Linked DNA regions of Homo sapiens. The protein of the gene in region 2 interacts with the protein of the main gene of each other region in a pairwise test. Each region holds a gene or a part of one and is shown on either strand. Other genes may lie near its edges.

Evidence for each region.
Region 1: the proteins of LGALS9C (region 2) and BACE2 interact in binary tests that used the Homo sapiens proteins (3 or more experiments, as listed by UniProt).

What each region holds. Positions count from the first base shown.
Region 1 is NC_000021.9:41,160,616-41,172,574, reverse strand, and holds the start of BACE2 (beta-secretase 2 isoform A preproprotein), read right to left. Parts: upstream 4,416-11,959; 5' UTR 4,312-4,415; coding exon 4,000-4,311; intron 1-3,999. UniProt on the Homo sapiens protein: Responsible for the proteolytic processing of the amyloid precursor protein (APP).
Region 2 is NC_000017.11:18,469,942-18,481,579, reverse strand, and holds the start of LGALS9C (galectin-9C), read right to left. Parts: upstream 4,792-11,638; 5' UTR 4,726-4,791; coding exon 4,687-4,725; intron 1-4,686. UniProt on the Homo sapiens protein: Binds galactosides.

The DNA.
Region 1 (11,959 bases), on a different chromosome or scaffold from region 2:
CAAAGACTGAGCTGGGCTGACCCAGATTGACAGCTCCACCCTGCTTTGCCTTCACTAGTGTGGCCCTGGACAAACTACTCTGCCTCTCCAAGCCTCGGTTACCCTGTCTGAAAATTAAGTCACATTGTTGTGCACATTTTCCAGGACGTTGCAAGGATACAATGAGGTGAGCCACGCACAGGGCTTCACGTGCCCTTTGAGTGTCCAACACTCCATCAGCAAGAAATCAAGGTCAGCTCTTGATCTTATAAACTATTTCTCAGACTCCTGTCCCTCCTTGTTGTTTCAAGCTGATTTCTTGGCTCACCTTTCCCAGTCCTCTGTAATACAGTCTTTGATGAATTCTTTCTCTAAAGCCCAGAAGCTGCCACTTCTCACTCGAAGGAGCTGGTGGCAAACTGGCTTTGACTTTCTTGTTCTTTCAACCTCAGTAATTGTTTTTTCTCATTGTCTTTAATAGTTTACCATTTCAAGTGGCTCCATCAGATTTCTTCTTGCTGGGATTGCCTTCTTGTTTTCAGCCTCACCTACAGTCAGCTTCATTTGGGGAGCCTGGATGGCTTCTTCTGAAGAACACAAACTCTTATTGCATATGCTGGATCCATATTTTCAATACAAGTCTTCCAAATAATTGTGTACTAAGAGGCTGATAATCAAGTGAATGCACCATGATTAAAATAGGATTCGCCAAAATAATTAGGTGGCCCTTTACATTCAAGTGTTCAGGTATGAGAATAGTTTTGCTGTCTGCTTTACCTATGTTAGTGGAGATGACAGAAAATCTTTCAGAAAAAGAATCCCAAAGGCTTTTTTTGAAGCTACTACAAGGTATATGGCTGCACACCTTCTCCTGTCTTCAGCTGGAGTTATTGTGTTAACATGAAAGTCTCTTTTTTCATAATAGAAATTGCTGTAATTATAATTACTTTAGAAGAGTGTTATTATTAATAAGACCAAATTGCACGGTTCAAGCAGGTGCTGGTTGAAAGAACTGTTCAAAAGTTCTACAGTTCGAAAGAACCCACATAATGGGATCAGCCGCAAACCTGGCAGTCATCTCCATGCCAACGTGGCCCTGCCTGCCAGCACACACGCCTTGCAGCTCTCAGGCGGGCTTCCGGGCACATGCCTGTGACTCCTCACAGAGTCACTGGGCTTTAAACAATGGACCTCTAGTTCCTGATTAAAGCCTTCGGGGAACAAGCACACTTCCAACAGTTGACTTTCCCATAAAAGAAGGGGAGCTGGAGGGCTCTGGTTCCTGTTGAACCTCTCCTCTCAAGGCCTCTCCCGTGCACACCTGGATCCAGCCCTTCATTCTGTTGCTCATTCAGCAGTGCTGAAGGAAAGAGGAGATGGGGGAACAGCACGGAGTTCCGGAGGGTCCAGTTGCAGTCATACAATAAGTCCCTAACACCTTGGGGTGTACGTTCAGGGTTCTCTGGCTAGAAAGGGTAGTTTGAGGCCAAAACCAAAGAGATCAGGAGGCATGAAGGGAAGGAAGTCGTTATCTGTCTGGTGGTTCAGAACTTGGCTTCTGAAGTTCAGCTCCCTGGCTTCCATTTTTGGCCCTCCCTCTTTCTTGCCCTGTTGCCCTGGAAAGTCATTCAGTCTCTCCGAGCTTCAGTTTTCCCACCCCCAAATGCGTATAAGACCCCCGAGGGGTGGTGGGTGGTGGGTGGGGATTCCTGGGAAAGCACACCTAAAGCACAGAGCGCAGTGCTTGTCACGTACTGAGCTTTCAGACATTGTCTATGACTATTACTTAATTCTTGAAAAATTCTTGGTTATTTATTGCTTGAATTTACAATTCCATTTTTCTCTCCACCTAAGCAATTTTTATTTTAGGCTTCAGAGAATCAGCAGAGAATAAATGCATGACTCCTGGCCATTAATAGAGCAGGAAAGCTCACTCCAGGTTCAGAAGTCACCTCACTGCTGCCCCCTCTAGCCGGCTGCTGACACCCTGCTGGTGGTCAGAGACATTTCAGGGCAACACAGGCAGGTAGTGAATCCTAATGCAGTAGTCAGGAAAGCCTGACTTTACAGTAGGCATTTGGAAAGATTTGGTTATAAAGCAGCTTATCGCTAAATCAAGCCAGGAGGGAGGTACAGGATATTTCATTCCCCATCACATGTAAAAATTAAATCTGTCTCTGTAGAAGCAGCGCTCCCTGGAAACATGCTAATGGTTGAGAAGTAATCTTGAACCAACTACTGCCTTGGCTACGGTAAAGACAGGAGCCTAGGTACTCAATACATTTCTGTTAATTAAATTAATTAAACCTCATCATTTTAAAATAAAGGTCATTGAATTAATTAACAGGCAAGTTATTATTTATAAAAGCTTTTTTTTTTTGATTGCCAAAGTTAAGTATTTTTTAGTCCTTCTTCAGGCTTCTCCCTTTCCCCTTTGCTCTGGAGGGAGGGTTTCAGGGCTTCTTTTATCATAGCCCTCAGACCACCCACATTTACTTTTAGTAGAGAGAATTCCCTCGCATCAAAGCACACATGTCCAATGGGGATTCATTCAAGGCCTGTTCCAAAAGATTCTCTGCAGGTCACAGAAGAGGTTCTTCCTCAATATCTTGTCATATTTCCAAGGTTCTCAGCACCAGGCACATGTTCCCACGTGTTGGCTGCACCAAGACCACATCTTACAGCCAAGTTAAGCTCCCTCAGCTGATGGGGATTCCTATTCCCTCCCTCTAACCATCCACTCCTGGAGATGGCAAAGATCACTCACGTGGCTTCCCATGACTTAGACGAAAGGCAACTAGAATCAAAGTTTGAATATACGCTTTTGAAGGTTTTTTTTTCCCCCTAAACTAATTAAACAACTACAGAAGTTATTCGGCAGTTTCCTTTTTTAAAAGAATTAGCATGGCATGTCTTTCCTCTTAAAGTCTTGAATAATTTAATGAGAATTATACAAAAGTCATGAGTATGTTCTATTTATGGGGGAATCATAGCTGAATCAAAACCCAAATGACAATGTTAAAAATAAAAATAAACTATCTTCAAATAGTGCATTCAATTGAGCAAAGGACTTCAAATCCCACTTGGATTAGACAGTTTGAAAGTAGGAGGGGGCAGATCAATTGGGATTTTTTTTTTTTTTTTTTCAGATCACTGTGCTTGGGAACATTTGTTTCTTGCTACAAAAAGTGTTAGTAAATGAACATCAGAGTAAGAGAAAAGGAAAGCTGTTTGATTTTATTTTTGTGTTGTAATCGGGATACCACTTGGTCCCCGGACACCTCACTCAGCCCCTGTTTTTTTCCCGGTAGCTGGAATGCTTTTCACACTCTGCACACCCGCGTGTAGATGCATCGCTCCGTGCAGAGGGGCAGGGCCGCCGGATGAGCGAGGACACAGCTGACAAACCAACTCCGAGAAAGGAAAGCGGGCGCAGGGGAGACGCTGCTCCTTCCTCAGAGCAGCAAGCGAGCCACTTCTTAACCGGGTTGCTTTTAGCTGAGCTCATGCATAAATCCTTTTTAAAGGGTACTGCGCCTTTGGAAGCCGGCCACGAGCCTCTTTAGCAATGAGACAGCATGGTGGTGGGGTGGGGGGGGGGCGGGGGGGAGGGAGGGTATGAACACGAGGTGATTTTCCCCATAATAGCCCGTCGCCCAAGGCCCACCGCTCCGTCTCCCGCTGGAAGTAGGTGTCGCCCGCAAGAAGGAAATCACGTTATTGGAGGCGGCAAGTTCCAGGTCTCCTCTCCCGCCCAGCCCCGCGGAGGGGGAGCTCACAAGTTCTGAAACACTCGCGCACACCCCTCAGTGCGCCCCGGGCGGGGGCTGCCGTCCTCCGCGACTCAAGAGCGAGCGCCCCCGCTCCCCGGCCCACCCGAGCCCCTCTGCGTTCCCCGCTCTTCTGTGCGGGGACAGCTGCTGCTTTGGGGGCGACGCTAAGCCGCGTGGAGGCGTCTCTGGACAGCCCCCTCCCTCCAACGAGCCCGAAAAGCCCGCGGCAGCAGCCGGGGGTCCCTACCTTCTGCGGGGGGGTCCCGATCAGCATCTCCAGGTAGTAGCCGCGGCCAGAGTCCCCCTGCAGGTTGTCTACCATGGCCAAGAAGTTGGCGGCGCCCGCGGGGGACGCCAGGGCAGGCTCCAGGGCGAGCGCCAAGCCGTCGGCGTGGCGCTCGGCAGGGGTCCCGGGTCCCGGGGTGGGCGCAACTACGCGGTTCGTGGCCGCGGCCACCCGGAGGGGCAGCGTGAAGGGCGCGGGGGCCAGCTCCGGGGCGGCGCGCAGGAGCCACTGGGCCAGCAGAGGCAGCAGCAGCGCCCGGGCCAGTGCGCCCATGCCCACGGCGGGGCCCGGGGGGCGCGCCCAGCCTAGCCGGTCCCGTCCCGTCCGGCAGCCGCGGCTCAGCGACTCGGCCGGCGCGCGGGGCTGCGGGCAGGGATGGGCGCGCACCGGGACCGGCGGCGGCGGGGAGGACGGGAGGAGGGCCCAGGGGAGGAGGCTCGCGGGAGGGGAGGAGGCTCGCGGGAGGGGAGAAGGCGGAGGCCGGGGAGGCGGGCGCGGAGGCGCAGAGCCGCCCCAGCCCGCGCCGCCAAGTTGGGCAAGTTCTTCTCCGCTGCCCCCTCTGGCGGCCGCGACTGCCCCGCAGCGGCCCAGCCCCTCCCCCGCGGCCAAGGTCACAGCGGGGCTCGGGGGGCGCCGGGGTCCACCTGCGCCTGCCCTCCCCACCCTCGCCGGGCTCAGGCCGCGCCTCTTCCCCGGGAAACTCGAGTCCCGAATTTCCTCGGAAAGCGCCCCAGCGGCCACGGCCAACGGATGTGACGAGGCTCATCTGATACCGGGGGGAAAGTTTCGAGAACCCTTAAAGGGGCAGCGAGGGCCTGAACTAGGGCCCCGGCCCCGCGCGCTTGGGGGTCCGCGGGGGTCTATTCGCCCGGCAGTGGCGGGAGCTTCCGGGGGTGACTCGGAGGTCAGCGAGGAGAGCGGTGGATCGGGAAGGAGCCTGGAGCCTCGCGCGCCTTTCCGAGCCTGCGCCTCCCCTCGCCAAGCTCCTCCGCCTCATTTCAGTCGCCGGGTCTGGCTGCTTTCGAGGCGTTTCCCGTCCGCTGCCCCCGAGCCCCCGCCCTCAGTCCAGCCCGTTCCCCGGCCTCATCCCCCGGCGGCCCCTGGGTGGTTTTAAAGAGGTCTCAGTGGAGGCTGGGAGGGTGGAGGGTGGAAGGAGGCAGAGGAGGATGCGAGAGCTTTGGAGAATTTTCCCTAAAAATCGGGGGAGGTGGGGGGCGTGGCTGCTGCTGGCGCCTGGCCCCAGCCTCATTGCCCCCCCTTACTCCCTCTGTTGCCCACAGCTAGCTGCGAAGCTGGGCTTCACCCCAGCCACCTTCCCCCCACCCCCGCCCCCTTCGCCCCCTCCGCCGCGCCCCTGTCCCTAATGCAGGTCAGATGCTACTGGAACCCGCTGCCTCCCCTGGCACCCAGCCCTCAGGCCACCTAGTAAGTTGCTGTCAGGATCCCAAATCAGGGCCACGAGTCCACCCTGCTGTGATCCCTGCCCTTCTCCCCCACCTCCCCTTCTATCCCCAGCCAGCTCTCTGCGGACTGTCTAATTAATACTCGTTTAGCCATAGACGCCAAGACGCAGAAATGCGTTGAGTAATGCAAGCAACGAGGGTTATTTTATTTTAGATACTAAAGGCAGGGGGGACAATTAGACAAGCTAAAGTCCATCGATTTCTACAGAAACAAGGAATAGAAAATTCTTTGTACCTCCTCCAGCTGAATTATGTTGGCTGTTTTAAAAAACAAACAAGCCCATCTTCAAACAGTGGGGAGTTAGAAGCCAAGCTTCCCCGAATCACTGCAATTTTCAGCTACTTCTACTCAAGATTTGATTTTTATTCCTGTGTTCCCAATTTTAGAATCACGTCTAGCTCTGCAAGGGACCTTTATGTCAGAGATCTTCAAATGTATTGATTTTCAGATGACTTTAACCATAAATCACACTTCCCCCAAACTATATCTCAACTTTAACAAATCCCCAACTCCATGAAGAAAGGCATAGCTGGATCCCGTGATATAACTTAAGTTGATATTCTCCATAAATCTGCATAGTTATTCCAGAGCCCTTCTATTCATATATTCACGTTTCAGATTCAAGGTTGTGGAGGGAATGTGATTTTTTTTAAAATGATTATTTATACTCCTTGGTGTCCAGTCTTGAGGGGTTCAAAAAGACATTCAGACAGCTCTGGGAAGAATATAATCTTTCTGAAAAGCACATGAAATGTATTAGGGCCATTGATAAAGAGGCTATGTGACATATAAGTTTAATACTAGAGACATTTGCTCTGTCTAATAATTAAAAGCCACAAGGGAAATTTTTAAAAAATCAAGTCTAATTAAAGTTTGTACAAGAAACGCGTGACTCAGTCTAGGGTGAGTATTCCTAAGCTTTTCATTTTAAGAGGGATGGTTTGGGTTTGTGGGGAAAAGGATGCATAAAGATCCAGGGATGGAGGAGCACACAGGCTTCCATGGATGGCAGAGCTGTCTTGTCAGAAAATAATGCAAGCTGAAGGGACAGCATTGGGTGACTGTCTCCTTGGTTGTCTCTGTTTTCATGAATGGTCTTAGAGCATATGATCCCTATTCAAGCCTATGGTGCTGGGTGGATTTGGGAGACAATAATTTTACTTTCCAGGTGTTGGAACTGAAATGATAAGTGGCAGCCCTCTCATGGAATAGCATTGATTTTTAAACCATGGTGACCGATGCAGGGCAGAGAAAGGAGAAGGTGAGACCCACCCTCCTGACCTCACCCCTAACATCAGAGGACATGGGATACTGCCCTGCTCTTCCTCACTCCACCAGAGCCTCCAACTCCTTCCCTTCTCCTTACAGCCTCTCAGCACCCTCGTTTTCAGCCATGGCCTTCCTGAGTCCATTCAGGAAAACAAAAGCCCTGCAATTAGATGGGCCTTCTCTCCTTGGAAAGAACAAACATCACCATTAAACATGACCCTGGACGGTGGAGAGCGAGGAAGGATCTCACTCTCCAGCCCAAATGACTAATAGAAGATTCCTGGTAGGAACGTGTGGCGCTCAGCCAGAAAGAGTCACCATCCCATGTTCCACTGATGTTTGTTGTCTCTCACTGCCAGCTCCCAGTTCCTTTTACACCTGCGATTGTAACCGGGCCTATGTTAGATGAATCATAAGGTGTTTGTTTTCCTTTATCGTGGTCCTTGGCTTCCTCCAGGCATGCCTGTTTGCACATAGTCCTTTTAATAGAAGGGAGTCCCTTGTCATTAACTTTATATCCTGGCCCCAAGCCTCCTCACATGATTAATGAACTTGTTTTTCTTTTAAAGAACAATGATCTTTAGGTTAGGCAGATCTCTTTGATGGCATCCAGAAGTTTGATCGGGCTGGGCCGAGGGACGCAAACAGCTTTGATCATGGGGGATCTTACCTCCCACATACTTACCTTACCCATAGAGGCGCCAGCTGTGGTCCTGAACTGATTCAGAAATTTCAGTATTCTGAATTCTGTATTTCTGAGGCCTTTAAAAAAATGATCCTTTGATATATCTACTGAAAAGTTCTGGAAACAATAAGTATCCTTAGTATCATATTAGGGTTACTAAATATCACTTCCCTCCAGAGAGAACCAGGGCTTTTTGGAGAAGGCTGATTTTATAAACTGAATAAGATAACCCTAGAATATCTCATCACACCAGAAAGCAAGGATGTTATCAAAGACTTCTGAGGTCTTGTCATAAGCTGGGGCAAAACGGAGACAATTTAAACATCATTAAAGGCAGTAACTGCAATGCCTCAAAACACTTCAATTATGTTGAAATCTATTTGCTCATAATGTTCTTTTTAAAAGTACATTGATTATCTTTGAAGAATGCTAAGAAGCCCAACTCATTATTTTTAAAAGCTGGTAAAGAAAGGAAAGGGATCAAGCATGTATTATCTTAACTTTCCTGTACAAACTATACGTCAGTATAAGCAAATAGTAGATAAAGGCGAGTTTCTCTTTGTAAAAGTATTGCAGCTAATAAATGAAGGGACGATAGAATTAGAATGTTGCCATTTTACTTCCCTTAATGAGTTAATGAATCTGGACACCGAATGTACATGGCTGATAATATTAGAGGGAGAGGGAAAGAGAAACACCCTGACATTCTAAGCCTTCGGATGGAAATCCGCAATGCTACCCATCTATGACATGTTATCGCCAAACAAAACAAAACAAAAAAACCCTGAATCTGAACAAGCCTGTACATCACAGGTTAGCAATCTGCCTTCTTGGGACCAAATCTGGCCAACTGCCTGTTTTTATAAATAAAGTTTTATTGAAACACAGCCATAGCCATTCGTTTAAGTCATAGCAACAAAGACAGAAGGGCCCACAAAGACCAAAATACTTGCTGTCTAACCCTTTTCAGTGAAAGTCTGCCAACCCCTGCTATAGATCAAAAGAATCCCAGTACCCCTATCAGTCTCTTGCAATAGATGGACCTTATTCAGTCCTGATTTGAACAAAATGACAAAATTGTTTATGAGACAATTAGAGAAATTTGAACACTGGTTGGATGATATTATGGAATTATTGTTAATACTTTAGGTGTGATAGTGGTATTGTGTGTGTGAGAGCTCTTATCTAGTGGAGACACATGCTGCCATATTTATGGATGAAATGAGACTTGTTTCAAAATAATGTGGGTTGGCAAGGATTTCAGGCAATATTCTCAGTTATTTAATACAAAAATGACCCTATTAGCAGGCATTATTATCATTCTCATTTTACAGACGAGAAACTGAGGCACAGAATTGATAGTTGATTGGTGAGAGGTGGGAATGGTATTCAGAACCCTGGGTCTGATTTCAGAGCCTGTACTCTTCCTCATGGAGCCAGGGCCACCCCTTTGATGTGAACTTTCTGGAGCTCATGGACTGCCCCAGCTGGAGAGGCCTCCAGAATGCCACCCGCATCCTGGCAGGACACAGAAAGTGCAATAGGCCAGTGGAACCCTACAGGCTGCATCCATAACCGGGCACTTAACAGACATATGCTGAACCCTCCCTGTGCCAAGCTCCACGCTAGAGGCGGGCTCACATGGGCGAATAACACCCAGAAAGCCCCTTCCATCAGAAATTACAATTTGGCAGGAGACAGACTGACTGTAAATATGTTTCCTTTTTGGGAACACCACTCTAGCTTCTAGGTGGAGGAGAGTTGGGGGTGGTGAGGCTGGAGACAGGGAGACCGATTGGGAAGCTGCTGCGAGGATCCGTGAGGACAGTGGCGATGGGCGTGGGAGGGGGAATTTAGCATTTAGTGCTTAGGAGATGAAGCCCTCGCAGCACAGGGAAGAAGCATCATAGGACTCTCATGTGATGGGAGCACTCAACACACAGCCATCTGCATCATAATCTCTCCTGTTTGCCTGGTGCTGGTGCTGTTCAATTTTCAGAGCAATATCACAAATCCTGCCTCATTTTGCTCCTCAAGCAGTGGGAGGCAGGGATGGTAGGGATGATAATTTTCCTTATAAAAAGAAATTGAGGGACAGGAACGCTGAGCTCCCACCATGTCCTGGGACTCTTATCCTCCAACACTCCCAGGTAGGCACATGCACCTGCATCACAGAGGACGACGCGGAGGGAGAGAGTTGATGACTCGTCTGACATCACAGTGAGGAAATGACGATCCCGGATTTGAACCCAGTCAGCTTCAGAAGCCTAAATATTCTTTTACCTAACCCATGTCGCCTTCTTCAAATGACTAATTAGGTACCTTTGGGACCAGAGGGAAGTAGGGATTCACCTCGGACTTCCTTTAAAGAACAATTTTTCCTCATGTATTTAAAATGGATTCCCATTTACAGAAAGCCGTGCATGCTTTCAGGAGCATATCAGTTGGATAAATAAGGCCCATTACTATGATATTACATCAGCAAGGTCCCAGCTAGGCGAGGTTCTACCTAGAGAGGTGGGTGGCTAAAATGATAGAGGTTTCCAAATGTCTGTTTACCATCAGCCCTCCTGTATTAATGAGCGTGGAGATACTCCATGGAAGGCTCAGAGGCTCTGAGCCTCAAGACCTGGGATCAACTTCTGATTCTGCTTAGACCGTTGGCATGTTCCAGGCAATTTTCTGCCCCCTGAGCTCTGGTTTCCTTATTTCCATGTCTACCGGCCACCTCCGAGGGCATATTCTCATAGACTCAACATGAATGGCCCCTCCTGAAGTTGTGTGTCAGTAAGTCTCAGTTGACTCACTGTAGTGGGCTTCCTGAGGATGAAATCATATTCTACAGTCTCTCAGTTCTGTTTGTTCCTAGTTTAACCACTCCAAAGCCAGGATGCAGACGCCACTGTAGCGTCTTATGTTCTCCATGCCACAGCCATGGCATGGTGAGGGTAGGCATATTGTTGTAATTCCTGGTGTCATGATGGGAAACCACTCTCCTGACATTTTAGTTACCAAATGACTAAGGATCATTGGAGAAGGTGTCTAACACCTTCCTGTTGACAGCTTCTGACAGTGTCAAGAGAGCCCCAGCATAAACATTTTCAGGAAGGTGTCAGGGGCTGGGGGTGTTCTGGAGACCATAGGAAACTGCTTGTAGTGAGGAGGACAGTGTCCCCCAAGGATGTCTTTGCCCTAATCCCCAGAACCAAGAAATCAGTTGCCTTACATGGCAAAAAGAACTGTGAAGATGTGATTCAAGGAAGATCTTTGAGATGGGGAGGTTATTTTGGTTAATCCAGATGCTAGCCCAAGCTAATCAAGTGCATCCTTAAAATCAGAGAACCTTTCCAGCTGTGCTCAGAGGGTGCCATGACTGTGGAAGAATGGTGGGTCAGAGAGATGCAACGTTGCTGGCTTTGTAGCAGCGGTAGAGGCCATGAGCCAGGGAACACAGGCTGCTGGAGAAACTGGCAACAGCAAGGAAGTGGACTCCAGAAAGCAAAGCAATCCTGTGACCCCTTGACAGCCCAGTGAGGCCTGTGGCAGACCTCTGACCCGGAGAAGTAGAAGACAAGGTTTGCTTTGTTTTAAGCCACAAAAGTTGTGATAATTTGTGACTGCAGTGTATAGGAAACTCATATGCTACTCTTATGAAATTCTCTACCACCTGACATCTTAATGGCAAAGAAGATGACAGCGCATGGAAAAACATGGATATTGATGACTCCAAGTCCAAATGTGATTCAGAAGAGTTAGCCTGAGTGTGGAAAATGTTAGGAATGATTTAACAATTGATTTCACCTATATATAATGTTTATATAAGAATGTCTAAATAGGGCCCAGCCTTCTTCATACATACAAAACAGAAATCCTAAATAATAATAATAAAGTATCATGGTTTAATGGTAGCATGCTTTTAGTAGTACATGAAAGGATGGTTCTTTTGGTCGAGGCATGTATCCTAGTATCATTAGAGCTGGTGAAACTGGGCAACACTTGGAACATAGCAGTCGCTCAGCAGACACTGGTTTTCCTTTCCTGAGAGTGTCATCTAGGGTTTTAAGCCTGTGACCCCCTTGGCTATGTGTATCTGTGACTTTTGGGGTGCCTATGTCGACTGCCTGACCTCCTTATTTCTTGGGCTTGGTCTGAATGCCCTCTGTTTCCCACTCTGTAACTGCACTGTTCCACCTTTCCCAGCGCACCAAGAACACTGTCCATTTCTTTTCTTTCTTTCTTTTTTTTTTTTTGAGAGGCAGTCTCGCTGTGTCTCCCAGGCTGGAGTGCAGTGGCGCGATCTCGGCTCACTGCAACCTCCGCTCCCAGATTCACGCCATTCTCCTGCCTCAGCCTCCTGAGTAGCTGGGACTACAGGTGCCTGCCACCATGCCCGGCTAATTTGTTGTATTTTTGGTAGAGACGGGGTTTCACCGTGTTAGCCAGGATGGTCTCGATCTCCTGACCTCATGGTCTGCCCGCCTTGGCCTCCCAAAGTGCTAGGAT
Region 2 (11,638 bases):
AGTCAGCCTGATCCAGTTATGGGCCAGCATGGGCTAGGATTGGGAAGCCTGTTGTCCCTGAAACGCGTCTGTGGAAGATTTTTCCCCTTGCCTGTTTGTGGCAGCCTGTGATTCCCTCCAGAGCCTTTCATTCTATCATGAGAGACAACGCTGAAAATACACACCCTCCTGGGAAGCATGCGGCCTCCACTCAAGCGTATTCACACCACAGCACCTAGAATTGAAGGCAGAGAGTGATGGACATGGGCTCGCAAGTCCACACAAGGCTTAACTAAGGAAGCCAGGAGGGAGAAAGACCAAGTACAGGTCATGGGGGCAGGACAGGGCAGGCTAATCTCCAAGGCAACAAGTTCCCCAAAAAAGTTCTGTGAGGTTTCAAAATGTCTTAAATGGCACCCCCAATTTCTGAAAAACAAGATTATTTTATTATTTATTTTATTTTATTTTATTTTGAGATGGGTTCTCACTCTGTTGCCCAGGCTGGAGTGTAGTGAGGAGTGTGATCATGGATCACTGCAGCCTCCACCTCCTGTGCTCAAGTAATCCTCCCACCTCAGCCTCCCGAGCAGCTGAGACCAAATAAGTGCAGGCCACCAAGCCATGCCCCACTAATTTTCAAATTTTTTTGAAAAGACCAGGTCTCGATATGTTGCCAGGGCTGGTCTTGAACACCTGGGCTCAAGTGATCCTTCTGTCTTGGCCTCCCAAAGGGCCGGGATTTCAGACATGAACCACTATGCCTGTCCTGAAAAATGAGATTTTAAATTGAATATCATCCAACAAACAAGGTTATTCATTGCAGCATTATAACACAAAGGATTATAAAGCAAAGCATTGGAAGGAGCCTAAAAGTCTTCCAACAGGGAAAAGGTGAAATAAATTAGGGTATTTCCATATAATAGAATAAGTTCTGTGTAGCTTTCAAAAGAAAAGAAAAAGAAGACGGAAAAGAAAAAAGAAAAAGAGGAAAACTCTGAGCACCGATATGGAATAATGCCATTTGCATAAAAAGTGGGTAGGGGAAGGCTATGGACTTGCATTTATTTATTTATAGATAAAATATCTCTGGAAGGATTTACAAGAAACTTATAATACTGGTTATCAGTGGGCGACCCCCCAGAAACATCCACATTCGAATCCCCGGAAACTGTGAATATGTTGTAGAAGGGACTTTGCAGATGTGATTAAATGCATAATTTTGGCATGGGGAGATTGTCTTGGATTATACAGGTGGTCCCAATGTAATCACAAAGGTCCCATAAAAGGGAGCAGGAGGATCAAAGTCAGAGGTAAGAGATGTGACAACAGAAGCAAGAAGCTGGTTTTGGGGGTTTTGTTTGTTTGTTTGTTGTGTTTTTTTTTTTTTTTTTTGAGACAGGATCTCATTCTGTCACCCAGGCTGGAGTGCAGTGGCATGATCTCAACTCACTGCAGCCTCCACTTCCCCAGGCTCACGCGATCCTCCCACCTCAGCCTCCCAGGTAGCTGGGACTACAGGCATGCACCACCATGCCTGGCTAATTTTTGTCTATTCTTTGTAGAGACACAGTCTCAGTTTGTTGCCCAGGCTGGTCTCCAACTCCTGGGCTAAAGAGATCCTCCTGCCTCAGCTTCCCAAAGTGCTGGGATTACAGGCATGAGCCACTGCACCCAGACAAAGCTGCTGGTTTTAAAGATGGCAGGAGGGGTCATAAGCCAAGGCAGGCAGGCAGCCTCTAGAAGCTGGAAAAGCAAAAGAAACAGATTCTCCCCTGGAGCCTCCGGAAGGAGACAACCTTGCTCACACGATGATTTTAACATCTGCCCTCCAGAATCATTAAGAAAGCAAATTTGTTGTTTTAAGATTGGCCAGCCAAGGCTGCTGTGGAATTTAGATCCGTGTGTCCAGGAAACCCAGGAAAACAACTGGACCTACTTTTGCTCCGTAGGGTGCAGGAGGATGGATTTTTGTGTTGGATTTGTGGTCCCATGGGCCTGGGCTCGCCTCCCAGCTCTGTACACTAGCAATTCTGACACTGGCCAAGTCACTTGACCTGCCTGTGCCCCACTTCCCTCCTCTGAATGGCAGGGCAGTAACACCACCCGACAGTGTTCTGGAGAGGACTGGAAGCAATGCTGTGTGCTGAGTCCCTGGCTGGCAGCATTCTGGAGAGGACTGGGTGGAATGCCATGTGCTGAGCCCCTGGCTGGCAGCGTTCTGAGAGGACGGGGTGCGATGCCATGTGCTGAGCCTCTGGCCCATGTCGGCCTTGACAGTGCAGCTCTTTGCATGGAACAAATCAATCCCTCTGCTGAGTCAGAACTTACTCTCTGTTCCTGGTTGTGCCCAGAGACCGGGGACTTTCCCTCTTCTTCCTACCTGGAAGTCAAAGCAGAGCTGAGCCCTGCGGACCAGAATGTGGGCAGCCTCATTCTGGACTCAGCATCACCAGAGGACACCAAGGCCTGGCCCCAGGAGTAGGGAGCTCAGCCTGGCTGGCCGAGACTGCCTGCCAGCTGGAGCCAGTACGTGGCCCTTAGCCAAAGTGCCCTGTTGCCTCAGAGGCTCCACGGTCCTGCTGGCCACCTTTCATGACACTTTGATTTTAGCCTTCTGACCTCCAACACTGTAAGCACAAATGTGTTGTTTTAAGTTGGCCAGCTAAGGCTGCTGTGGCATTTGGATCCATGTGTGTCCATGAGGGCTCTGGGGGTGACCGGGAACATTTATCCTCACAGCAACCCCGGCCACTTTTACAGATGAGGAAACTGAGGCACAGAAAAGTTCAGTCACTTGCCCAAAGCTACACAGCTGGTCGGCAACAGAGCTGGGATTTGAACCCCAGCACCCACGCTTCTAACCACCACACAGGCTTCCTCTCATGAGGAAGCTCGGAACGTCCTTATTCCTGGCTCTCGCAGTGCTTCCTGGGCCACACAGCAGGTGGTTCCAGCTTCCCCCCAGCCCTCCAAAGAGGCTGGGCTAGATGAGGCCAGACAAGAAGTGGGAGTGAGGTTTCCAAGCCAGGCCCTCATGGCACTCAGCCCTCCTCAGCAGGACATGAACCGCGTGACCTTCCCCCACTGTCGGCATGTGGAGAAAGCGTGACTCCGACTGCCAGATGGGTCACCGAGTGAGGCTCAAGTGTCCCAACCCAGGGGAGCCCCCGTAGGGTAGAGGGGAGCTCTGGACACCTGTGGGGGCTGCACTGATCGTCTTTCTTGTCTGAGCTCCAAGGCCCCGCTTTAACTCTCTCAAACTCTCTGATGTGCATAGGAGGATTTTCCTTCTGAATCCAAAGATTAGAAAGTAAAAACCAGTTACCAGAATAATAATATGTCAGAACCTGGAAGAAGCTCTGGGATCCCCTCTCTGACAGAAAACCAGAAATGGGGTGACATGCTCAAGGTGGCACACGCTGACCCTAAGGCTCGCCCAACACCGGCAGCCCATTCCAGCTTCCCCCACTCCCTCTATGCAGGTTCTACCTTGGGGGCTTCCATAGGGTGGCTGAGGGGTCATTGGTGACAGCCAGGAGGAAACAGGCCTCCTTTCTCCATTCTTCCTCTCTGGAGTCTAGAAAGCAGAGCTGAGCTCTGCAGACCAGAACATAGGCAGCCTCATTCTGGACTCAGTATCACCAGAGGGCACCCAAGCCCAACCCTGGCCTCTGCTGAGGTGGCCCCTGGCAGCTTCCCTGCCCTCAGCACCCTGCCTCTGCCCACCCTCCCCATTCTGCCTCCCCACTCAGGAAGGGCCCATCAGCCCACCCACTCCAGCCCCTCGGGAAGCTCTTTGCCAAGGCAGGGTGAGATCCTGTGACAGGACCCAGCCCAGGACACAGTCACCCCTGAAGGCTCCTGGGCTCCTGGGGCTGCCACTCCCATCTGGGGGCATTTGGCAACTGGCCTTTGCCTCCCTGAACCTTGGATTTTCCGTGAATGAAGGGGACTCATAAACCTCACAGAGTTTCAGCAAGGCACCTGCAGCCCTCTGACCCCACACTGCAGGGACAGTCCCTGCCTCCGTCACCTCTGAGACTGTCCGTCTACAGATGCCCTGACATGCCTATGCCTGGTTAACTCCGCCTCACCCTTCAGAGCACAGACACCTCCTCGGGAGGCCTTCCCTGCTGCACCCAGACTCCCAATAACATGAAACACTCCCAAAGCACCTACAGTGTGTCAGGCACTGTTCAAACACTCTAGATACACTACTTCCTTAATCCATATCCCAACCCTGGGAGTGGGGGGCTCAAGTATTATTCCCACTTCACAGATATGGAAACTGAGGCCCAGAGACCACCAGCCAGTAAATAGCTGGACCCAGGGAGGCCAACTCCACAGTACGCACCCTTAACTACCATGCCGGGTAGCATCCTTACTGTCCCAGAAGCATGCTTGCTTCCTCTTTACACAAACCATCCCACTCTACACCTCTTCCCCTGAGCGCACAGGACAGGACAGGACAGCTCAGCCAACACTGTCAAACCCATGACTCATGGGAGGAGCATCTCTCCAGGCATGAGTGAGCTCAGCATGGCACAGCTGTGCCAGGACGACCCCCACTGACATTTCTGCCCTGCTTGTGTTCTCTTTGGGATGCCCCCACCCCTATCTCCTGCCACCCAGGAGTTGCTTCCTCAGAGCCCCAGAACTGTGTCCCCCTGGCTGAGGCAGCCCTGTGCCCACGGCCCCGGAACTCACTGGGCTCAGATAGGGAGCCTGGCAACCGCTGAAGGCCATCTCTCCACCGCCTCTGTGGCCACCACTGCCTTTGACACCTGCCAGGCAGTCCTTTGCAGAAGGAATGACTTAACAAAGTAATAGAAACCAAAGCAACTTGGCTGTTATTCAATGGGGAGGAGCCGGCAGCAAGAGGAAGTGGGTCCAGAGAGAGAAAGGTAGGGTGTTGGGTGAACTGGGGTGACACTCATAGAGGGAAGTAGGCACTCCCAGCCCCAGTGACCTTTCCCTCCTCCCTCTCCTGTGCTCAACCCAAGCCTGAAGCATATTTGGTTCATAGAGGTCTACAATGCTTGACCACACTGACATGACAGTGAGTTGCCAGATGACACTGCCCAGAAGTATGTGGCTGTGTGTCCTAAGCATGCTTGGCCACTGGTTCCAGAAAATAATGGGGCTGGGTATTGCCTGTGCACAGGGTGCTTGTGGGGAAGGGTGGCTTCAACTCATTTTACATATAGAGAAGCTGAGGCTCAGAGTCTGAGGGACATGCCCCAGGTCACACAGCTAATTCGTGGCAGCCTGAGCTATATGAAGATTCTCAGAATCTTCAAGAAGTATTTCTCCTCTTTAAATTTCTATTCTTCATGTTAAAACATAATTATGTAGAAGGGAATATTTTGCATGAAAAACACTATAATGAAGATTTTTATTCTAGAGTATGGGGTGCCCAGGAGCTTCTGATCCTCCCCCTCAGTGAATCTCTCTTTCTTCTCTTCTCCATCCTTATTTTGTGAGCTTTAGGATGGGGAGAGAAGTATTGGACATAATAGAACATTTCAAGTGACATGGGAGTGGGAAGGAACATATGGCATGAACTGCCTTTAATTGGCTTCAGCACCTAGTTAGGGGAAATAATTGGCTGAAACAGAGAATAACAGGATAGGCTGCAGAGGGGAGAGGGAGCCATGAAATAAACTTACCTGAAGTTGACCAGGTCCCAACGATGTGCTGGCGAGAAGGCCCAGAACTCAAGCTGGGGATGGGCGGGTAAGGACCATACAGGCTCGAGGGGATGGCAGGTGCCCCAGGGCCATACGTAAGTCTGCACCTCTCTTCCTTCCTGTGTTCTGCCTAGATGCACTAGAATTTGCAGACGAACTCCTTTGAGATGTTCCCATAGACTGAGGCCGTGTGTGTCGTCTGCACTCACCATCCCATTATGTTCTGGATCAAGTAGAATTTGACCAAGTTAAGGAGTAGACAGTACAAGGGGAGCAGAAAGGAGAGAAAAGAAGGGAAATTCTTTGCAATCCTCTCGAATACCAGGAATATTTTCATCACGTCACGTCATTTGTAGCAATCACCAATTGATTGGGATATGGAACAACTGGAACTATCATTCATAGCAGACTTGAGTGTAAAATAATCCAACTTAGAAAAATGGGCAGGGCGTGGTGGCTCATGCCTGTAATCCCAGCCCTTTGGGAGGCTGAAGTGGGAGGATCACTTGAGTCCAAGAAGTTGAGACCAGCCTGGTCAAGATAGGAAGACCCTGTCTCTACATATAATTTAAAAGGCAAATTAGCCAGGTGTGGTGGTGCACACCTGTGGTCCCAGCTATGTGGGAGGCTGAGGTGGGAGGCTCACTTGAGCCCAGGAGGCCGAGGCTGCAGTGAACCCTCATCACGCCACTGCACTCCAGCCTAGGTAACAGAGCAAGACTCTGTCTCAAAAAATAAAAAAAATAAAGAGAAAGAAAAACTGCTTGGTGAGTTGTAATATAGTCAAATATCTACTTCAAAGTTGCTGGCTTTTCTACTTCTGAAAAATTACCCAAGAGAAAGGAAAACATATTTGTCTGTTTTTAAAAGCTTTACTCGTCATAGCCCCAGGCTGGTAACAATGCAAATAGTCACCAACAGAAGAAGGGAGAAATGAATTGTGGTTTTCACACTACAGAGTGGCCCTCAGCAATAAAAAGGAGCTAGGCCACAGGAAACGTCAATGAGCCTTGCAACTGAGCGGAAGAAGCCAGATCCAAACAGACACATGCTGTGAGAATTCCATTCGAGTCAAGTTGAACAACAGGCTAGAGTGGCGTTACCCTTGGGAGTCACTGACTGGGAGGGGCACGAAGGAGTCTTCGAGAGGCTGGAAATGTTCTGGATCTGGTTCTGGGTGGTGGTCCCACAGGTGTTTACATCCATTAACAACAGGCTGAGGCTGGGTGCAGCAGCTGACACCTGTAATTCAGCACTTTGGGAGACTGAGGCAGGAGGATTGCTTGAGTCCGGGAGTTTGAGACAAGCCTGGGCAGCATAGCAAGACCTTCTGTGTACTAAAAATCAAAAAAATTAGTGAGGCATGGTGGTGCATGCCTGTAGTCCCAGCTACAGGGAGGCTGAGGCAGGAGTATTGCTTGAGCCTGGGAGGCTGAGGCCACAGTGAGCTATGATCGTGCCACTGCATTGCAGGTTGAGTGACAGAGCAAGACCCTGTCTCAAAACAAAACAAAACAAAACAAAACTCAAACAGAAAACCAGGATCTGTACATTTTATTCTACCTAGACAATATCGCCATAAAATACTGCTAAAAGAAAAAATCTCCCAGAGCCCAAGGAGACACAGGCACAGCTAAGAGTTCCAGCAGTTTAGCACCTTAGCATCACCTTGAGCCTTGGAGGTGAGTCACAGTTAAGCAGCTTCACTAGTGAGTCCAGCCCATAAAGGAGGGCCCTCTGCTCCATGCCCTGTCTGGAGGGGCCCCAGTAAGGTCATACCCAAAGGCTGACATGTTTTTAGACTAATCAACACAGTAGGGAGGCACTTCGAGGCACAGTGCCAGGCCACTGAGAGTTCTGACTTCGGCACCCTTCAGTCACCACAATCCATTCCCAGTGGTTAGCTCTGGTCTTCAGGAGACTAGAAGCAGCCCTCGGGAATGTTCGTGCTCAGAGCTCTAGTGTTCAAAGTCACAGACCCTTCTCAGAGGCTCTCTCTTCTCTGCCCTATAGACTGAGGGAGTCTGCCACCTCACACTCATTAGGATGCCTATGATTAAAAAAAAAATCCAGAAAATAACAACTGTTGGCCAGAATGTGAGTAAACTGGAACCCTGTGAAAACAGCGTGGCTGTTCCTCAAAAACCTCATCATAGAATTACTATATGATCCAGCAATTCCACTTCTGGGTATATCCCCCAAATAACCAAAAGCAGGAACTCAAAGAGACATGTGAACACCCACGTTTGTAGCAGCATCATTCACAAAAGCCAAGAGGTGAAAGCAACACGTGTCCATCAACGGATGAGTGGTCAGCAAAATGTGGGCCAGACATACAATTCAGCCCTAAAAAGGAAGGAAATTCTGGCATATGCCACAACATGGATGGTCCTTGAGAACATTAAGTGAAATAAAACAGCCATAAAAGAACAAGCACTGTAGGCCGGGTGCGGTGGCTCACACCTGTAATCCCAGCACTTTGGGAGGCCAAGGTGGGAAAATCACCTGAGGTCAGGAGTTCAAGACCAGCCTGGCCAACATGGTGAAATCCCGTCTCTATTAAAATTACAAAAAGTAGCCAGGCGCGGTGATGAGTGCCTGTAGTCCCAGCTACTCGGGAGGCTGAAGCAGGAGAATCGCTTGAACCTGGGAGGCAGAGGTTGCAGTGAGCTGAGGTCACACCACTGCACTCCAGCCTGGGCAACAAAATGAGACTCTGTCTCAAAAAAAAAAAAAAAAGAAAAAGAAAAAGCACTGTATGATTTTACTTGTCTGAGATACCTAGAGTGGCCAGAATCAACAAAAGAAAGTAGAATGGTGGTTAGGGGCTGGTAGGAGGGGGAATGAAGACTTATAATTTAATAGGCATAGAGTTCTGGTTTTACAAGATGAAAAGAGTTTTGCGGATGGATGGTAGTGATAATTGTATAACAGCATGAATGTTCTTAATACCACAGGTCTACCACTTAATATTGGCTCTTGGCTAAGATCTTAGCTGAGGCCATTGACTGGAACACCTGCAAGTGGCTTTTCCACATGGCTTGGGCTTCCCCACAATATGGTGGCTGGAGTCCACGGGTGAGCATTCCCAGCGAGAGCCAGGTGGAACTTACATCCCTTTTATAACCTAGCCTCAGAAGCCATCCAGTGCCATTTCCACCACATTCTATTTGTTGAGGCAATCACATGAGCACCACCCAGGCTCAAGGGGAGGGGAAAGTGACCTCACCTCTAGACAGGAGGCAGCAAGAGGTTGAAAGAGCACCTGGGACCAGGAATATTTGGAAAATTCAATGCCTGCCGCAGACAATAAGTAAGTGCTGGACTCCTCTGGGCACTGGGGTACAGAGAGAATTGGACATAGTCCCAGCCTTAAGCATCTCATATTCCAAAGGGTAAGATGGATATACAGCTGGGCTACATGGCTTCAAGGAGGAAGTGCACACAGATTTTTTTTTTTTTTTTTTGAGACAGAGTCTGTCTCTGTCGCCCAGGCTGGAGTGCAATGGCGCCATCTCAGCTCACTGCAAGATCCCCCTCCAGGGTTCAAGGATTCTCCTGCCTCAGCCTCCTGAGTAGCTGGGATTACAGGCACCCACCACCACACCCGGCTACTTTTTTGTATTTTTAGTACAGACAAGCTTTCACCATATTGGCCAGGTTGATCTCGAACTTCTGACCTCAGGTGATCCACCCACCTCGGCCTCCCAAAATGCTGGGATTACAGGTGTGAGCCACCGTGCCCGGCCAAGATTTTTTGTTAAAGTTAATATAGTTGGTTATGTGCTGGACATCATTCTAGGTGTCTTACAATTAACTTTATGTCAGTTTTATGAAGCAGGCACAAATAATAATCCCCATTCTACCTGGAAAGAAACAAAAGCACGGAGAGGTGAAGCAACTTGCCCACAGTCACACAGCGGCAAAGTGCCAGAGTGGGGACTCAGCCCGGGCAGTCCCGCAATGGAGTCTGTGCTGCTCACCACGGCACCACCCCACCTCTCTTCTCAGATGCCCCCTCATGGGATGGACCTACTTTCACGGACCTCAACGTCTTTGCAGGGAACATGGGCCTGAGTGACTGCACTCTGTCCCTAGGGAGTGAGGAGGGTTCTGCCAAGTGGTTTCATTTTGATCACTGTTTTCTGTGCCTGGGGGGTGGGAAGCCCAGAATGGCACAGCTCAGCTCCTAGTCCTATCAACTCACTCTCATCCAGGGCTGATTCCAGAGGGGTGGCAGGGAATGAGGGGTGGGGGTTGCTCTGCTGAACAGGAAGGAACACTGAGTCCATTCTCTTTTGTATCTGGGGATCCCCAGAGAAGAATGCAACATGGTATGAAAGAGTGGAACGCCAGCTTCTAGGGGAGCCCCAGTGTCCAACAAGGGCACACACTTTGGGAGTCAGCCAGGCCTGGCCCCAATTCCAAGCTCCTTCACTTCCAGGCGGGATGATGCTGTGCAGGCTACTTCACTGCAGTAACCCCCAGTTTTCCCTTCTGTACATGGGGGTGATATTTTCTCACATGACTTCCCTGATGTGAAATGAGAGAACACATGTAAAGCACCTAGCATGATCCTGCCACGTAGTAGGCAGTCAGTGACCATCTCTCCCTTTGGCCAGGCTTCCTGGCATGTGCCGGACCTAGACCCTGTCCCCCAAGGAATCTGACCAACACACTGCAGTGTGGGCTTTCACCTCCCTTGTTTCTACACACTCTACCACCAGTGATGTCACCTAAGATTATTTTATTATTTTGGCAGCCATATCCCTCAGTGGTTCTCATCAACTAAAATCCTACAGTTCTTTCCACAGGTAGCAGCTGCTTCTCAGTGTCCTCCCAGCGGCCATCATAAATGACCTGGCTGCAGTGATAGTTGTGCTGTTACAGAAATATGGAAAATCCCAGGCCACTTCCTGCACACCTCAGGACCTGTTTCCTTCCACACTAAAGGCTTGCTCAATACCCCAACGAAGGAGAGATGGGTAAGATTCAGAACCCAGGCCTCCCGCACCCTCCCTCTGATGAGCCCTATTCCTGAGGCATATTGTCCAGCCATTTGCTCAAGGGAGAAAGACAGTAGATGCTCAGTTCCTACTTGGTGATGAGAAGGTGACTGAGAAGGGTGTGTCTACTTCTTCAGTGCGGCTCTGCCTCCCAGCCTAGAAACTGACTGAAATAACAACCAACAATTTTAAAGGTGGGATGTGGGCGGGAAGTGGAAATCTACATTCACACTGGAAACTAGAGTGTTGTCACGGGCCGTCCACATGCTGCGAGCATTGAACGTGATGCGTTGCCAGAGCTCACGTGGGCTGGAAAGAAGGCATCACCGGGTCACTGCAATCAATGCACAACTTCCCTTCTGGGAATGGACTTAGTGATCCTGGAAGGGAGGTGCAGATCCTGGCTGGATGAGGGCAGCCATCAGGCTTTGAACATTCACTTTATGTGCTAAGTGCTTCACACACTTCATTGATTTGGTCATCACCACAAGCCTGCCAAGTAGCAAGATCCCACTTCCCTTATCAACAAGGAGACGGAGGTTCCAGGAGGTGCAGGAACCCGTAGCGGGGCTGAGGGCTGACTTGGTGTCCCCCATGGACTCAGGGGACTGGGGAAAGGGGAGTTAGTGTTTAATGGGAGTTTCATTTGGAGATGAAAAGGTTCTGGAGATGGATGGTGGTGATGGTTGCATAACAGCGTGAATGTACTTAATGCTAGTAATTTGTGCATTTCCAAATGGTTTAAATGATAACTTTTATATTCTGTACACTTTACCACATAAAAAAGGTGGGGGGAGGAAGGGAATCACTGCTAGGTTGCTGTGGTAACTCTGCAAGTGTATATAAAGGTATCAGGAAGAAAAAGCTAAAATACTCACTTACAGTCTCCCATTGTTTTGCTCCAGAATCCACACACCTGCTCTGTCTCTGCAATGTACATAATTAAAAGAATGCAGGTGCTCG